2 linked regions of the Homo sapiens genome follow. The protein of the gene in region 1 purifies or fractionates together with the protein of each later gene. This does not show direct contact. Each region holds a gene or a part of one and is shown on either strand. Other genes may lie near its edges. The genes, in order: MPPED2 and KCTD3.

Region 1 (3,826 bases):
TTAAAGTGGAATGGGGGTTGCTAAAAGCACTGAAATCCCTTTAAAATGCTTTGTAAGGATACAGTTCTATTCTCTCACTGAATTATAGGTTGATTGTATACACAAAGGTTATACTGCACACATGGTCTAAAGAAGAAATCCATGTCACAACAAACCACATGACAGCTTTTCTGAAGATCTACCAATGAGGTTTGCAATACTGTATTCATTTGTTATTGGAAAAACAATAATAAATATGGCCGGAAGAGGAATCAGAATGGAAGCCATAATATTATCATATTTTTTGTGAGTAAAAAAACCCTAATATGTCAAGACTGAATAAACAAGAATGGTTTATTTGTTTGAATATGCAGTGAGATATGTAAGCATTTGATGATCAAGCTTCAAGAACAAGATTTGAGGCTTGGCACAAAACTTGGAAAGTTCATTGGAAAATGGTTTAAGATGATAGCTCAGGCCTTCTCTAGAAAAATCTGCCAATTTGTTCAGCAGTGCCACCTCCCCATGGCCTGGGCTAGCATCTGTCTTTGATGAACAGCTCATTGGTTCATGAATTCACACAGACCATGAATTCTGACACTACAAAGGGAGGGATTCTCCCCAGTGAAATTGTATCTGGGAGGAAATAGCCTTCTGAGGACATTAGACATCTTATCACACAAGGAAAAATGGAAGAAACTGTAGCTACTCCACTAGAGTGGAGATGATTTCCGGGGATTATAATAGATTGTTTTCAAATAGTTGAAGAACTGTCCAATGGAAAAGGGACTGGGTTCTTATTTTCTTGTTATTTCAGAGTGCAGAACTAGGATTAAGAAGGAGGGACAGGCAGGAAATAAATATATTAAAGACCATGGATTCCGCTCCCAGTATATGCTGGGTGTTGTGTATGTGATTTCTTTTAATTCTCACAAAGTCCCTGAGTGAGTGGTAGATGTTATTATCTCCCTACAACAGAAAAAGAGATGGAGGTCATAGAAGTTAAATGATACTACTACTAATAGTAGTAAAAATACTATTAGTTACTAGTAAAAAAAAAATACTAACATTTATTGGGTATCTACTTCATGTCAGACACTGTTCTAAATGCTTTGAGTACATTATCATTTTTTATTCTCATAACAATCTTAGGAGATAGGTACTATATTTATATCTGTTTTACTGATGAGGGAACCAAGGCACAAGGGTTAAGCCCCTTGCTTGGTGTTGCATGTTAATAAGTTGTGGAGTGGATTTCAGAGCCAGGCAGTCTGGCTCTGCAGCCAAACATCCTTCACCCTTACGCTATTCTGCTACTCTATTTTTGGAGCATTTGTTGTGTGTCAGATGCTGTACTTGATAGTTTGCATCCACATAGCAACACAGAAAATTAGGCATTATTATTCCCATTTTACAGATGAGAAAAAGTGAAGCTTAAAGAAATCAAGGAAGTTGCCCAAAGCCAATGACTGACCTAAAATTGTTACTTAGTCTTCAGGTTCCAGGCCAAAGTCTTTGGACCATGCTCAGCTTTCTCAGAGGTACAGAATCTGAAACAGAACTTTCTAACAAGTAAAGCTATGAAAAAACTAGGATGGGTTGCACAGGGGGAGGAAGGAGCTCTCCTTCTCTGGAAACCTCAGAATGAAAATTGAAGCCAGGTGGGGGTGGCTCACGCCTATAATCTCAGCACTTTGGGAGGCTGAGGTGGGAAGATTACTTGAGCCCAGGAGTTCAAGACTAGCCCAGGAAACATAACAAGACCTCACCTGTACTACTGCTAATAACAAGAAAAATAAGCTGGGTGTGGTTGCCTGTGCCCATAACCCCAGCTACTCTGGAAGCTGCGGTGGGAGGATTGCTTGAGCCTGGGAGGTCGAGGCTATAGTAGGCTATGATTGTACCACTGCACTCCAGCCTGGGTGATAGAGCGAGATCCTGTCTCAAACAAACAAACAACAAAAGAAAAAACAACCAACAAACCAAACAAACACAAAACATTATGTCGTCTAGAGGGAAGGGATAGAGGAGATTCAGATGTCATGTAAAACATTGAACGAGATGCCCCATAAGGTTTAGTCCTGCTTTGGGATTTTATGCTGCTATGTTTTTTTCTCATCTTCCCATGTCACCTTGTTGTCCCCCAGGTGTACTCAAACATATGTGCAAATATCACTCTAATATTTGAATCTGGCTCTGGGGTTTAGATTGCCTTGGTAAGATACTCACTTGCTAGGATATTTGACACGATGCCTTAGGGGAAATGTTAGGTCATTTGAGAACTCAGCAGCATAAACAGTAAGTGGTAAAGTTGTAAACTAAGGATGAAAATATAGTGTGAGGGCCTTCACACAATATGAACAGATAGGATCTTCCAGTAGCAGTTGGAGTCTCCCTTAGATGTACTTTTATAGTGAAAATGTTTGGCTGTCTTGACTTTTCCAGGTGTTTATCAAATGCCCAATTTGGGAGGAGTAGTTTCCTGAGGGTGGTCTCAGTTTTAATTATCTCCACTGGAATTTGCCCACTCTGCTAGAGGTCTTATTTTCAACTCTATGCCTGTGGGTGGAAATGTCTTCTTCCTATGAGCTCCAGGTGATATTTGTTGTACCATCTCACAGAGTGGCTTTGGCATGTTGCACTGCCTTGTCTTCTGAAACCATCTCTTGCTTTGTACTTATTCCTATGGATAGCAAAGATTCTCAGTGCCTCTGGGTCAGGATATCTATATAAAGTCTGCATCTGTATACGCCTCACTTCCCCCATCCCCTGCCTTGAATCGATCTTCTGTGCATTCTCCCTAGTGTCTACACATTATTTCTCTTTGATGGCATCATGGTGGTGGTGTAGATGTGCGAGCCTTCTTTGCTTGTCTTGCTGTCTACTTTGGACTCAAAGCTGAGAAGAAACACTTACTATTTCAGCTCAAAGCTGAGAAGAAACACTTTTCCCATTTTTACTGTCCCCTCTACTCAGCTGTTCCTTGGACTTTGATATTTAAATGTTTCTCTGAAGGAGGTGGGAGGTGGAGAAAGAGGTTGAAGTGATTCAGAAATTGCCTAGTGTTCCCCATAATGTCAGAAAATTTATTGCCTAGTATGAAGTCAAGATGAGGAACCAATTATGTACCATGTGATGATTGGCTACTTTAAAGTGGGTAGATTCATAGAACAGGGAACTATTTACAACAAGAGGTTTACATCTGTGCTACTTTCAGTCTAATTCAAAATAATGACAATGATGTCTGTCTGATAAGCTGAGATGACCTCCCAAAGGATTTTGATGCAGTAGCTGGGTCTGTAGCTTAGCTGAGTTACAGAAAAGGAGAAATGGGGCTGTGTCTGTATGTTAGTATTAGAATGAAAGCTAGAAAACAAACACTAGAATAGGTAGATATTACATTTATTCATATATTTAGAGATGTAGTGGCTGATTTATTAAATTTTCATTCAAATGTTGGTGCATTAAGTATAAATGCAAACAGTCCTATTCTAGTGAGCATTTAACTATTGGTATAGGGATATTGCTTATCACTTTTAGAGAGTGACACAGTCAGCCCCAGCAGGGAACAGTCATTCATTCTCTGGGAAAACTACTTTTCAAAGACAGGAAATGTTGCTAAGATTGTAAGCACCGAGACTGAGTGTAACCAAGTCTCAGTGATGGAAAGGAAGACATCAAACATTTTTACATCTAAAAAAGCAACATCGGCTATAATGAGGAGGGTTTCCAGGTTACTAATGAGATCACAGTGGATTAGTGAATTTTCTACGTGGTAACAGCATATTAATTTCTAACCTTTCTAACAGAAAAAATCCATTAATTTTTTGCGGAAGTTAAACTTTCT
Region 2 (3,826 bases), on another chromosome or scaffold:
GTCTTCTAAAGTTTACAGATATAGTTTAAAGAATCCCAGATGTATTTTTTTTTTAAAAATCTGAATTTATGAAAGGTTTGGCATGTCTGGTAAGTGCTGTTTATATCAGTAATCTCAGGTTTATATTTTCCTTGTAGTAATGATTAAGTGCAGACTTTTATGTTTTAAGAGTGTTTTGGCTGGGCACGGTGGGTCACGCCTGTAATCCCAGCACTTTGGGAGGCCGAGATGGGTGGAGTTCAAGATCAGCCCGACCAACATGGTGAAACCCCATCTCTACTGAAGATACAAAAATTAGCCAGGTGTGGTGATGCATGCCTGTAATCCCAGCTACTCGGGAGGCTGAGGCAGGAGAATCACTTGAACCCAGGAGGTGGGGGTTGCAGTGAGCTGATAGCTCACCATTGTACTCCAACCTGCGCAACAGAGCAAGACTCTGTCTCAATAAATAAATAAACAAATTTTTAAAAAAAGTGTTTTGTGGATTTGTAATTTTAATTATGAAATAGCATGGAAATTGTTTTTTGCATAATTTCTTTGGGGATGGTTTTGTATGAGGCAAGACTAATTTGGTAAAGTAATTTTTTTTTAGGAAGCATTGTTTTGAATTTATCATCTTATATATTTGAATTGAGGTGACTTGTAGACCCTTGTTTACATATTATGTACATATTTTTGTCAATAAGGAATTCCAGAAGAATTGTGAAATGATAAGTGATCCAAGTGTAACAGCATAACTTCCGTTTTGTTACTGTACACAATACTAAAGATTGCTCTTTTCCAGAACCACCACATTATTACGCAAAATTTAACTCACTGGGTAATAATTGTATGGAGGATGATGCTATTACATTTTCCAGTCTTTGCGTTTGCATTGATCACGATCTTTCTGTGCTTTCACCAAGTGTCTGACATTTCAGAGCAATATACTCATGTAAAGTGACGAAGGAAGACAATTGAGGACATATTTGGATTTCCTCACATATAGTTAAATCATTCAACACAATGGCAATAAAAAGATTTCAAAAGAAAGAAAAATATTTAAACTGTTTAAAAGTGTAATCTTTTTTACAAGTTATTTTTCCTCAAGTTTTTGTATCAGTAAGTTACAAAACCTTTAAAAAAAGAGTAGTACAGTGAAGACCTGTATGATGTTCTCCTAGCTTCACTAATTTTCTACATGGTTAGGTTTTATGTTTATGTCCCTTTTTCTTGCTGAGTTTATGACAGTGTTACTTCTATTAACGAAGAGTAGTTGTGTGAATTGCTGCCCCCTTGGGGCTTATATTCCACTTTAGATCTTTAATCCTTGTGGAGTTTACTTTTTTGTATGTGGTATGAGATTTAAGGATTTATTTTCTTCTCAGTGGGTAGGTAATTATGTTCTGACAATTTATTACGTAAATCATTCTTTGTCAGTGAATCTGATAGCCCATTTTATCTTGCTTTATGTGTGTGTATATACTTGGATCTGTTTTTCAGTTCTCTCATTTCCTTAAGACATATGTCTATTCTCATACAACTTGAGGTGAAGTATGTTCATAATAAGTTTCAAAATCTCACAGGGCATGTCCTCTCTACTGTATTTTATTGAGGTCTTCATGTAGGAAATAACTAGACGTAACTCTATTCTTCGCATAGCTGTCTTAACCAGAGGGTTGGTTCACTAGGCAGCAGTAAGATGATGGAGAGGTGAAATAACAGAGCATATTCTTGTTTTATATTTTGTTTTATTTATTATTATATATTTTTTGTTTTGTTTTGTTTTTGAGATTTTGAGACAGAGTCTTGCACTGTCACCCAGGCTAGAGTGCAGTGGCGTGATCTCGGGTCACTGCAACACCTGCCTCCTGGGTTCAAGCAATTCTCCCACCTCAGCCTCCTGAGTAGCTGGGACTACAGGTGTGCACCACCACACCTGGCCAATTTTTGTATTTTTAGTAGAGACGGGGTTTCACCATGTTGGCCAGACTGTTTTCAAACTCCTGATCTCAAGTGATTCACCCGCCTCAGCCTTCCAAAGTGCTGGGATTCCAGGCGTGAGCCACTGTGCCTGGCCTTGTTCTACATATTTTAAATGTATTACTTGTATGGAAAGTTATAGAGCAAATATGTACCTTCTTTGTAATTTTTTAAAAAACAGGTAAATTCACATATCTTATTAAGAGTTAAATTCTGTAGTTGTTATAGTTATTTTTAAATATGCTGTCCTGATTCTTTTATCCTTTTTTGACATCTCTTTATTGTGTAATACCCTAATTACTATAGAGAAAAACAACTTAGAAGTAATATGTCTGTAAAAGATGAGATTATATAGTTTTTTTTTTTAAGTGAATCCAAGTTTATTAAGAAAGTAAAGGAATAAAAGAATGGCTACTCCATAGCCAGAGCAGCCCTGAGGGCTGCTTGACTGAGTATACTTACAGTTATTTCTTGATTATATACTAAATAAGGGGTGGATTATTCATGAGTGTTTCAGAAAGGAGCAGGCAATTCCCAGAACTGAATGTTCCTCCCCTTTTTAGACCATATAGGGTAACTTCCAGACATTAGATGTCATTTGTAAACTATCATGGGGCTGGTGAGAGTGTCTTTTAGCATGATAATGCATTATAATTAGCGTATAATGAGCAGTGAGGACGACCAGAGGTCACTTTTGTTGCCATCTTGGTTTCAGTTTTGGCTGGCTTCTTTACTCCGTCCTGTTTTGTCAGCGGGATCTTTGTGACCTTTACCTTGTGCTGACCTTCCTTGTTACGCTGTGACTAAGAATGCCTAACCTCCTGGGAATGCAGCCCAGCAGGTCTCAGCCTTATTTTACTCAGTCCCCATTCAACTCTGGTTTGAACACCTCTGACATGTTTTCCCCTTCCCTTTTACAAGGGTACTCTTAATCCTAAGGGTTTCAGAGGGAGGAAGATTCATCTTCTGTAACTTCTGCAGTCTGAATAGGGATGATGGTATTTCTGCCTATTAGGGTCTTCTGCATTCAGAGTAGAGGAGAGCTCAGTTAGAAACTGTCAGTATGGTGAGAACTCTGATTTCTGACAAAAAGTGATGACTGAAAAATTAATAAGTGTTCGATTTAAGAAAGCACTGAGTAAGCTTATCTTGCATTCCTACACAAAGAGAACAACAGCAGTATATTCTACAATAACAAGGCAAAATAAGTAAAATTATCCCAAGTAAACTAAATAAGAAGGCTTTTCATGAACTGGGAAATTGTTGTAACCAAGCTGATATGGAGTTGGAACCAAGCTGATGTGCTAGCCAATTCCAATACATGCCCACAATTAGAATACTGATCCAGATTTCTGTGTTACCCATGCCTCTTGTTTCTTCTGAACAGCAGCCACAGATCACTGCTTGGTCCACAAGGATAAGCAGGATGAGTCCAAATTGCAGAAAGAACTCAAAAACTACTGATGAGACAAATCTAATAAAAAGCATACCATAGTTTTTGAAACAATTTTCCTATTTTCAGTCTTTCATTTTTACTAAAGAAATCATGGTAGGACTGATTTGTTTGCAAAATAAGCTTTAGTCTTATTATACTTGGCCTGATTATTTGTATAAAGTGCAGCAAGAATAATTAGTTCCTATATAGGCTCTTTTTAAATTGACTTTGATAGAACTTTGATCCATAAAGAATCTCAAATGAGACTTCTTAAAGCCTTGAGCCTTGCCATGGGTTTATCATTGCCTGCAAATACCTGTATGAGTTGGGTAAGTTTCTTTCCTTTTGAGGTTTCATGATAACTTGGGGCTTTTGGGCCTGTCAGAAAGTGACTTTCTTTACTTACCCCAGACAGGTCAGAAACCTTGT

What was found.
Region 2: the proteins of MPPED2 (region 1) and KCTD3 fractionate together in Homo sapiens (co-fractionation; one large-scale study listed by BioGRID). This does not show direct contact.

What each region holds. Positions count from the first base shown.
Region 1 is NC_000011.10:30,537,737-30,541,562, reverse strand, and holds part of MPPED2 (metallophosphoesterase MPPED2), read left to right. Parts: intron 1-88; exon of another isoform or gene 89-184; coding exon of another isoform or gene 185-285; intron 286-3,826. UniProt on the Homo sapiens protein: Displays low metallophosphoesterase activity (in vitro). May play a role in the development of the nervous system.
Region 2 is NC_000001.11:215,580,803-215,584,628, forward strand, and holds part of KCTD3 (BTB/POZ domain-containing protein KCTD3), read left to right. Parts: intron 1-3,826. UniProt on the Homo sapiens protein: Accessory subunit of potassium/sodium hyperpolarization-activated cyclic nucleotide-gated channel 3 (HCN3) up-regulating its cell-surface expression and current density without affecting its voltage dependence and kinetics.